2 separate regions of the Homo sapiens genome follow, and region 2 is linked to region 1. The links come from fine-mapping of genetic effects on gene expression. A gene starts in region 1. The other region holds a variant in brackets. All regions are shown on one strand. Distances are from middle to middle. Region 1 holds the start of GPR55 (G protein-coupled receptor 55). Region 2 overlaps SPATA3-AS1 (SPATA3 antisense RNA 1).

Region 1 (5,371 bases):
GGATTACAGGCATGTGCCACCACGCCCGGCTAATTTTGTATTTTTCGTAGATACAGCGTTTCTCTATGTTGGTCAGGCTGGTCTCGAACTCCCGACCTCAGGTGATCCACCTGCCTCCCAAAGTGCTGGGATTACGGGTGTGAGCCATCGCTCCTGGCCTAATTTTTTATTTTTTGTAGAGACAAGGTCTTACTGTGTTGCCCAGGCTGGCCTCAAATTTCTGGGATCGAGCAATCCTCTTGCCTCTGCCTCCCAAACTGCTGGGATTACAGGCGTGAGCCCGAGCACCCGGCCTGTGCTGGTTCTTAATTGCTGACTCTACACATTCTGCAGCTGGGATTCCCGCAACTGCCAGTGGTCCATGGTACCCTCATCCGCCCACACCCTCAAGGATCCAGTGTCCCACTTGCGGCAGCCCTGTGGCTTTGCCTGCACAGCTGAGACCTCGAAACCCAGCTATGTGGCTCCACACCAGACCTACCTTTCTTCCCTCTGTGGCCTGGACTTTCCAGAGAACACAAGCAACAAGAAGATCACAACCCTAAGGAGGGTTGCAACTGAGAAGGTGGCCCTTCCTGCAGCTGCCAGGCTGTTATCTGCACAGAGCATTGCAGCGTGAGCCACCTCAGAGATGGCAGGGCCAGAGCCTAAAAAAGCAGCATTGGCACAGCCGCAGGGATGGATTTGAGGAGCCCTGGAATACTCCCCCAAAAATGCCGCAGTTAGAATACACAGCGTATCCACCAGTAACACCATAGTGTGAATAAAGTCATCCGCCTGTGCCTGAGCTGGGCTTCTGGGGGCCACGATAGAAGAAGGAACAGGACACAGAGGGGACAGAGCACATGACCACAATCTCCCCAATGCCTGAATGTTGCTGGAGCTTGGGCTGGGGGGTTGGAGTGGGGCTGGGAGAGGGGAGGGGCCGGCTTGGGGACGTGAAAGGTGGCCAGCAGTGTGCTCAGTGATCTACGATGGGAACTCAGGACACTCCTAGGAGATTGCCCTAATTATGCCCATTTTACAGATAAGGACAGTAAGGCTTAGAGATGTTAAAGATTCTACCCAAGGTCAAAAAGGCCGTGAGGGACCAGCTGGAACTCATGTTCTGAGTCTCTCCTCCTCGCTCACCCTGGCCCCCATCAGCATCACAAGCAAGAGCATCTGGGATCCAGGAGTTGCCAAGCCCCCTCCTCACTTCTTTGCATGCTCATGCTCCTCTTTCTCCTTGGACTCTCTCCTCCACTGCTAAAAATCCCACCTCTTCCTTGAAATGCCCACTTCCCAGGTTCACCCACATCATCTGATGTGGTTTTCCCAGTGCAGTCCTGAGTGGGTGCCTTGAAAAGTCCTCTGTGTATCCCAGGGGGAGCGTGTCCCTGCTGTCCTCCAGCAACCCCAGGACCAGGACCATGTCCCTTTCACCTTTATCACCGAGCCTCACATACAGTTTGTCGTTGGGAAGGTCTTATTGCATGAAAGAGGGGGTGAAGAAATGACGGAACAAATGGCCAGGTCTGCTGCAGCTCCACAGTGACTGGTGCTCCCTTTACAGCTGGGACAGCCGCTCAGAACCAAAGGCAAACCTTGCCTTCCACAGAGCTGTGGGCGGCACTTTGCCCTGCCCTGTCCTCTCATCCCCACTGCCTCGGGCAGCACAAAGCCCAGGTGAAGCCAGGCCAGCCAGACATGTCCTGACTTTGTGTTCTCACTCTCAGGGAAGAATCTAGAATGTTCAGGGTTCTAAGTGCTGCTGTGTCTTCCCGCCCAGCCTCTCCAAGAGACACTTGGCTAGGGTTAGAGAACAATGCAGCTATAATGTAGGATAGCAACCAGGGCTTTCCTCTCCATCATTTACTGCCCTTGAGCGCCCCGTGAGGAAGAAACCGTGTATTGCCTCATGCCCCAGAGAGGTAAACGGAGGCTAGAGAAATTACGCAGCTGGTGAGTGGGTGAGCCTGGGCTCCCAGGCTCCTTCTGGTCCCCAGTAAGCACTTGCTCAGGGCTGCAGGATGATCCCTGAGAGTGTGTCATCTCGGGCGCTTGGTGGTTTCCCAACAAGATTCTGGGGAATGGGCGGCGGGCTTGGTGGAGGGCGGTGGCACGTGAGCTACATGCCCCGGGAAGGCTCCCAGGCTGCCTATGGGGAGGTTTCCCGACCCGACATGATGCTGCAACCCTGAGTCAGATCAGGAGGAAGTTGAGGGTTCGTAGAAAAATGTCACTCGTAATCGGGGACAAACCAGGTCTGCCTGCCGCTGCTGCTGTCACGGAGGCTGCCTGGAGGCTGCCGCTGCCCTGACACCTGGGACTGCTCGCTGAGTTGGGACAGGTGTGCACAAAGCCCAGGCCCACACAAGCCCCACTGATCTTAGGAGAGTTACCTGCAGTCCACAAGAGCAAGGTCAGGTTGGAGGCTCCGTGCCTTAGTTTCTCTAAATGGCCCAGAGGCTGTTACCTGTTGGTGGTCCGGTGCAGCTGAGAGGGCTGAGAGATGTCATTTCTCCTCCAGGCCTGGCTGTCAGCCTGTTCTGGGGAGAGTCACTTCCCCTCTCTGGGTCTCGACTTCCTTGTGAGTGAAATAAAGGGGTGGGACCAGATGCTCTTTGAGCCGCTCCAGTGTCACCCTGTCTGGCTTAGGGGCTCTTGCTCTGGGGTCTACAGAGAGGCTGTGTGGAACTAGAGTGTGGACATGGGGAGCAGTTTCCAGGAGGAGGGTCTACACTCTCCCGCCCTCTTGGAAGATCTGCACGCCCCCCTCCCGCAGCTCCAAAAAACAAAACAAAAAACCAAAAAGCCAAAAATCACACTGCATGTGTCAAGCCCTGGGAAGCCTCTGGAGGAGGAAGCCTCCTACGCACCCCAGACACCCTAACAGGGGCACCACACAGGGGCAGCCATTCTCAGCACCTGCCAAGGGCCGTCGTGGCTTCCAGCACTTTGGGGGTTTAGGATTTGAAACTGCTGCCCACAGAAAGGAAAGGAAGGTGGTGCTATTTAGTACTTGCAGGTTAGGACTTGCGTGCCTAGCGTCGGAGGAGACCTCAGCCACTGCATGTGTGTCTGCAAGAATGGTCAGTGGGGCCCCACAGGTTCCCCAGCCTCGGCTTCTCTGTCCCAGGCCTGCACAGAGATTTGGGGCAGCCTTGGGCCTGTGGCTTCCTAGGGCCCTGCAAGCAGAGATTTCCCTGGCATCTCCCACCTTCAGGGCTGGGAGGGCTGAGACTCACCCGTGGGCCTGGGTGGCTCTTAGCTGGGAGCCCTCATAGATTCCAGCCCATCAGGAAAGTCTGGGCTGAAACTACCCCGGCAGATGCAGCTCTCATGCCCTGGAGGTGCTGGGAGGCCCTGTCGGAGGACCAAACACAAGCAATTTTTAAAAGCTATGCGTGCTGGGACTTTCAGGTGTCTACAGGAATAGAAACTACTCCTGGGTTTTTTGGATGATTCATCCAACACATGGGTCCCCTCTGTAAATAACACCTTGCAAGTCACTGCAGGGGAACCACCTGGCCCTCTGGAGCTGGGTCTTCCCACTGTCTGGTGAAGAGGTTGATGGAACCATGACAACTTTTAAGCTCTCACCTGGGCTTGTGCGATGGGCAGTGCCAAGTCCACTGCCTGCTCCAGGCCGTGGAGCCCCAAGCTGGCCTGGGTGCCAAGACAGGGCACAGGGCAGTCCTGCCCCCAGCGAGGCCCCCCTACTGGGCCACCAGCCCAATCTAAGCCAAAGGCTGGCTACTGGGCAAGGGGGGGCAGCCAGGCCCGCACCCTGGGTGCGGGAGGAGGCCAGGAGCCTGCTGGGACAGTAGCAGGGAGGAAACACACCGGTGTCTGGCACCCACCTCCATACCCAGAGCCTGCAATGTGAGGCCCCAGGAAGGCATCCACACTGAGTGGCCTGCAGGGAGCAGTGTCTCTGCTCAGCCCCTTCTCAAAGGGAGCCTTGTCTACTCCCATTCTGGCTACCTTCTTTTTTTTTTTTTTTTTTTTTTTTTGATACAGAGTCTCGCTCTGTTGCCCAGGCTGCAGTGCAGTGGCACTATCTTGGCTCACTGCAACCTCCACTTCCCGGGTTCAAGTGATTCTCCTGCCTCAGCCTCCTGAGTAGCTGGGATTACAGGCTTGTGCCACCAGGCCCGACTAACTTTTTTCGTATTTTTAGTAGAGACAAGGTTTCACCATGTTGGTCAGGCTGGTCTTGAACTCCCGACCTCGTGATTCACCCACCTCGGCCTCCCAAAGTGTTAGGATTACAGATGTGAGCCACCGCTCCCGGCCCTGGCTACCTTCTTTTAAGAAATGAATATTTCTACTTTATTGCTGTTGCAATATTAAAATTTTTAAATTTTTAAATTTTTGAAAACATGCACATGATTCAAATACATATGTAAACACATATAGGAAAATATCTGTCCCACTCCTAAATCCAGCTCTCACCTACCCCCCAGGGCACCACTGTTAAGTTTCTTCCAGAGTTTCTGTGCCCGCCCGTGTACACCTGAGCTCTTATTTTCTCCCTCTTTTGACACAGAAGCTAGAGACCACACGAGCTGCTCTGCAGTAGAAGGCATTGTCCACCTCCCTCTCCTGTGGGTATCCCTTGGATACCTTGGGGGATATCCAAGGTATATGGGGGATCCCTTGCCAAGATACGTCTCCAGAGAGACTCAAAGGTTTGAGCTCCTAAGAGCAAGGCTAGGCAGGGACTCGCCCAAGGCCCCGTCCTAAGGCTCAGGCCTGTCCCTCGAGCTTTTCGCCTCCCCTTGCCACAGGCCTGGGGAGTCATAAATAGGAAGACCTTTCTCAGAAAATTTCCCTTAAGCCTCCTGAAACTTCTCCCCCTAGTCCTGCCCACCCTCTCACCATCCAGAATCACTTGGAGGTTTTGGGAGCCTGGGCAGGTCCCTGCCTGTCTTCCAGGCTGGGAGCCCCGAGTTGGGGGGTTTGGGGGCACACACCTTCGACTTCACCAGTGGAGCAGCTTCGGAGCTTCAGGAACCAGCTTCTTCTAGGGCAAGGAACAAGTGAATCTGACTGTGTTTATCAAAGAGCGGGTCCAGGATAGCTGGGCGCTCACCACATCCTCCCCTGACGCTGGTGAAATTCGCTCCTTCAGCAGCCAGAGGCCTGGCCCTGCCCTCGTGGGGCATCCTTTCCCTCCAAGGGGGGAAACCTGCCCACCAGGGGGTTTGCAGGGTGACCACTTGGCCCAGAGCTGTGCAAGAAGTGCTCCCAAGCCTGCCCCAGAGAGCTGGTCAGGGAACAGGGGCAGGGGCAAGAGCTGAACCCTAAGAGACACGGGGAGGGAGGAGGATGCTGGAGGAGGGCAGCCCAGGTGCAGGCACAGGCAGGAGGGGCACGGGGTTGG
Region 2 (5,371 bases), 57 kb after region 1:
CGATACTGACATTATTTACTCCCGATGTGATACCTGATGTTATTTACTCCAGATGTGATACTGATGTTTTTTACTGCAGATGTGATACCTGACATTATTTACTCCAGATGTGATACTGACATTATTTACTCCAGATGTGATGCCTGACATTATTTACTCCAGATGTGATAACTGACATTATTTACTGCAGATGTGATACTGACATTATTTATTCCAGATGTAATGCCTGACATTATTTACTCCAGGTGTGATACTGACATTATTTACTGCAGATGTGATACCTGACATTATTTACTCCAGATGTGATATTGACATTATTTACTCCAGATGTGATACTGACATTATTTACTCCAGATGTGATACCTGACATTATTTACTCCAGATGTGATGCCTGACATTATTTACTCCAGATGTGATACTGACATTATTTACTCCAGATGTGATACTGACATTATTTACTCCAGATGTGATACTGACATTATTTACTCCAGATGTGATACCTGACATTATTTACTCCAGATGTGATAACTGACATTATTTACTCCAGATGTGATAACTGACATTATTTACTCCAGATGTGATAACTGACATTATTTACTCCAGATGTGATATTGACATTATTTACTCCAGATGTGATGCCTGACATTATTTACTCCAGATGTGATGCCTGACATTATTTACTCCAGATGTGATGCCTGACATTATTTACTCCAGATGTGATAACTGACATTATTTACTCCAGATATGATACTGACATTATTTACTCCAGATGTGATACTGACATTATTTACTCCAGATGTGATACTGACATTATTTACTCCAGTTGTGATGCCTGACATTATTTACTCCAGATGTGATATTGACATTATTTACTCCAGATGTGATACTTGACTGAGAAGTCTACAGTGGCACCTATGCAGTACAGAACTCTGGCCAAAGATATTCAACCTGCATCTAATCTTGTGTAAGCAATCAGATTAACCCACATATGGGACACTCTACAAGACAACTGTCCTGGACTCTTTATCAAAAACTAATTTCACATAAACAAAGAACAACAACAACAATAAAAAGGTGAAAGACTGTTTCAGATGAAAAGAGACTGAAGAGCCATAACAACCAAATATCATACATGATCTTGATTGGATCCTGGATAGGAAAAAAAAATCCAGCATTAAAAGCTCTTCCGGGGACAACTGTAGAGATTTGAATACAGATAGTACACTGGGTGCTATTATGGTTGTGATCATGGTATTGTGGTTTTGTGGGAGAATATCCTTATTAGGAGATGCTGAGATATCTAGAAGTGAAGTGTCAAGATGTCAGCAACTTGCTTTCAAATTGCTCAGCAAAATAAAAGTATGTGGAAATATACAAAGACAGAGAGAGACCAACAGAGACAAAGCAATTGTGGCAAAATGTTAACAGTTGGAGAATCCAGGGTAAGTTCATTGTACTCTTCTTTGAACTTTTCAGAATGTTTGAAAATTTCAAAATAAAATGTGAGGGGGAGGGGAGGGAGTTGCAGGGTGGATAGAGAAGGTTGGGATAGAGCTAGCTGCCAGACCCAAACCATCTGCCACCAACACAGGGAGTTTAAAATGGCCCTCTAAATTACAATAGACTCATCTTCGTTTTGAAATCTTCCTAGGACGGGTGCAGAGGCTCATGTCTGTAATCCCAGCTACTCAGGAGTCTGAGGCACAAGAATCACTTGAACCTGGGAGGCGGAGGTTGGAGTGAGCCTCGATCATGCCACTGCACTCCAGCTGGGGTGACAGAGCAAGACTCTGTCTCAAAAAAAAAAAAAAAAAAAGAAAAAGAAAAACAGAAATCTTCCTAAAAGGAAGAGAAAGCTATACTACACTTTCCTCGAACCTCAAAGCCCCCACTGCTTATAGAAACTTTGAACCCAGTACCCACTGGAAAATAATGAATGGGAAACACACCTGGTAAACACAGTCCAGGTAGAGAGGAAGAGCCTCCCGATGCCCCCAGCCCTGGGTAGGAATCACCAAACCCTACCCCCCAGTTACCAGGCCTGTGAAGCCTCTGGCTTGTCCCAGCTTTGCACTCTTATGGGGAGGGGTGGGGAGAGCCCATCTACCACGCCCGTGTGTCTCCTGTCTTATCATCTAGGACATTCTTACATGGACCTCAGGCACTACTGGGGAAGGCTTTATTCCTTTTCAACACCATCCTCACTCAAAACTGCATTCCTTCATTCATTTGCTTATTTATTCAATGATTTGGCAAGTATTTATTGAACACCAGTGATGCACGAGGCACTGTTTTAGGAACCAGGGACACGACAAGGAATAAGCAGCCGTGGCATCTGTCTTCTGCGGAGCTCACAGGCAAATTGCAACTGTGACAAGTACCACAAAGGGGAGGAACAAGGTGCCCATCAAAGCTGGTGGCATTTGTGTGACAAGCAGGAAATACAATCAACAGGCTTTGGGGATGGGCTGGGTTTGGCGGACGATGAGAAGGAGTGTCAAGAGACACTCCCAGGGTTCTGACTAGTATAATTGGACAGGCAGTGGTGTTCTTCACCAGGACATCCTGGAAGAGGCCTGCAGTGGAGAAAGAGGCGACTCACACCCATGCAGGCCACGGGAGCACAGGTCAGGCACGGAAAGGAGAGGCCTGGGATGTGGTGTGGGTGGGTGGATTGCCTGTGGATTGGTGGTTATGGAAGTTATGTGTAGCAGGGGCCTGTTTTGCGCCTCCACCAGAAACTTCTGCCACTCCCAGGAGGACCACACAGAAGGTCTTCAGTCTCATGCAATTTCCTTTGATTTTGCTCATCTTTGTGCTCAGGAGCAGATCTGGGTCGCATCCTATCCCCCAGGTGACAAGGCTCATCTGGCCTGCTAGCCAGGAGGGTGCCTTTCCTTTGCCTCCAAAAGCAAAGTGGTGGGGGTGGGGGAGGGAACAGCTTGGCAACACAGATACACGTGCACACACACACGCACTCATATGCCTGATCTTTTTCTTTTAGGATTTGCTACCCTAGAGGTGTCTGATTAGCTTTACAAAGGTTAGAGATCATTTTATTTTGCCCAAATTTAGTCAAGG[G/A]AAAGCCCAGTGCAATTCGCCCTCAGTTACCCCCTGGTTCCACATCCAAGATTTCAATCAACCATGGATCAAAAATATTTGAAAAAAGAAAAGCAATTTAAAAATAACAACAGGCCAGACACAGTGGCTCACACCTGCCATCCCAGCACTGTGGTGGGAGGATCACTTGAGGCCAGGAGTTTGAGACCAGCCTGGACAACACATAATGAGATCACAGCTCTACAAAAACCAAAAAAACAAAAATTAGCCAGGTGTGGTGGCACGAACCTGTAGTCTCAGCTACTCGGCAGGCTGAGGTGGCAGGATAGCTTGAGTCCAGGAGTTTGAGGCTGCAGTGAGCCATAATCATGTCACTACACTCCAGCCTGGGCAACAGACTGAGACCTCATCTCCAAATTTTTTTTTTAATAATAGCAACAATAGGCCAGGCACGGTGGCTCACATCTGTAATCCCAGCTCTTTGGGAGGCTAAGGTGGGAGGATCATGAGGTCAAGAGATCGAGACCATCCTGGCCAACATGGTGAAACCCCATCTCTACTAAAAATACAAAAATTAGCTGGGCGTGGTGGCATGCACCTGTAGTCCCAGCTCCTCAGGAGTCTGAGGCAGGAGAATCGCTTGAACCTGGAAGGCGGAGGGTACAGTGAGCCAAGATCATGCCACTGCACTCCAGCCTGGCGACAGAGCGAGACTCTGTCTCAAAATAATAATAATAAATAACACAAATTTTAAAACTAATACAGTACAATAACTATTTACACAGCACTTACATTGTATTAGGTATTACAAATAATCTAGAGATGATTTAAAGTATACAGGAGAATGTGCATAGGTTATTTACAAATACTATGCCATTTTATATCAGAGACTTGGACATCCTTGAATTTTGGTACCTGCAGGAGTCCTGGAACCAAACCCTTTAGGATACTGAGGGACAGCTATAATTGCCCTGGAAAATGGAACCCTTCCCCCAACTCCCATCCCCCACAGTCTCCTAAAAACAAGACATTTTTGGTACAAGTATATTTTATGTGGAACGTATCAACAGGATGGAGTCCCACTTCCAAATGGACACAGGGCAATACGGAGCACAACAGGGCATGTGTGGAAGAAGTGTCCTGGGGGTGCAAACCCTCGGGAATTAAAAATGGGATTGGGAGGTGTATTTGTTCCTGGGGGCTCCTGCAGCAGATGACCTCAAACAGCAGAAACTTACTCTCTTACAGCTCTGATGGGCCAAGGGTCCAAGATCAAGGTGTCAGCAGGGCCACACTCCCTCTGGAGGCTCTAAGAAGAGTCTGCTCCTGCCTCTTCCAGGCCATCCTGGCTTGTGGCTGCAACTCTCAAGTCGCTGCCTCTGCCTTCACATGGCCTTCTCCTCTTCCATCTCTGTGTCTCTCCTCTGCGCGTCTCATATAAGGACATTCATCCTGGGATTTACAATCCGTCCAAGATAATGATCCCAAGAATCATTTCATCTCAAGATCTTTAACTTGAACCGGGCACAGTGGCTCATGCCTATAATCTCAGCATTTTGAGAGGCCGAGGCAGGTGGGTCACTTGAGCCCAGGAGTTCAAGACCAGCGTGGGCAACTTAGGGAGACCTCGTCTCTACAAAAAATACACACAAAAAATTAACCAGGAGTGGTGGTGTGCAACCCTAGTCCCAGCTACTCGGGAGGCTGAGGCCAGAGGATCGCTTGAGCCTGGGAGGTTGAGGCTGCAGTGAGCCGTGATTGTGCCACTGCCTTCCAGCCTGGATGACACAGTGAGACCCTATCTCTCTCACACACACACACACACACACACACACACACACACACGATCCTTAAGACCAGCCTGGGCCACATAGGGAGCTCCACACAGAGCAGGTGCTCATTCAATGTTGTAAATTACATTTGTAAAGACACTTTTTCCAAATAAGGTCACTTACATTTGTAAAGACGCTTTTTCCAAATAAGGTCAAAGACCCTTTTTCCAAATAAGGTCACATTTCTGGGTCCCAGGAATTATAATGTAGATGTATCTTTTGGGGGGCCACCATTAGACGCACTACAGTATGAGACTTTCACAGACCATGGGGGACAGGAGGCAGCGGTTAAGCTTTGTTTCTTTCTGACTTGGCAATGGCGCCCTGTGGTGACAGCCACTCATACTGGAACTGTGCTGAGAAACCCATCCCTCCCTCCAGCTCTCACTGCCGAAGAAAATAGGCATTCTGAGAAATGCTAGTGGGCCCCAACCCCTTCCTAGCCACGCAAGCGACCCCCTCTTCAGGGCCTATTTCCA

Evidence for each region. PIP is the estimated chance that this variant, and not a neighbour inherited with it, causes the effect.
Region 2: its variant is fine-mapped to the expression of GPR55 in whole blood (TOPMed, PIP 0.94).

Annotation. Positions count from the first base shown.
Region 1 is chr2:230,922,710-230,928,080 of GRCh38, forward strand. GPR55 (G protein-coupled receptor 55) reads right to left here and starts at 2,533. Exons shown (of 2, transcript NM_005683.4): 1 at 2,459-2,533. RefSeq lists enhancers at 1,878-2,666, 2,230-2,349, 2,470-2,519, 3,340-3,569 and a silencer at 3,790-3,969.
Region 2 is chr2:230,979,414-230,984,784 of GRCh38, forward strand. It overlaps SPATA3-AS1 (SPATA3 antisense RNA 1), which reads right to left. Exons shown (of 6, transcript NR_033879.1): 6 at 4,955-5,371. Among named protein-coding and RNA genes, the nearest start is that of SPATA3-AS1, 14 kb to the right of the region's middle. RefSeq lists an enhancer at 2,337-2,476. The variant G/A (reference allele first, on the strand shown) is at 3,082.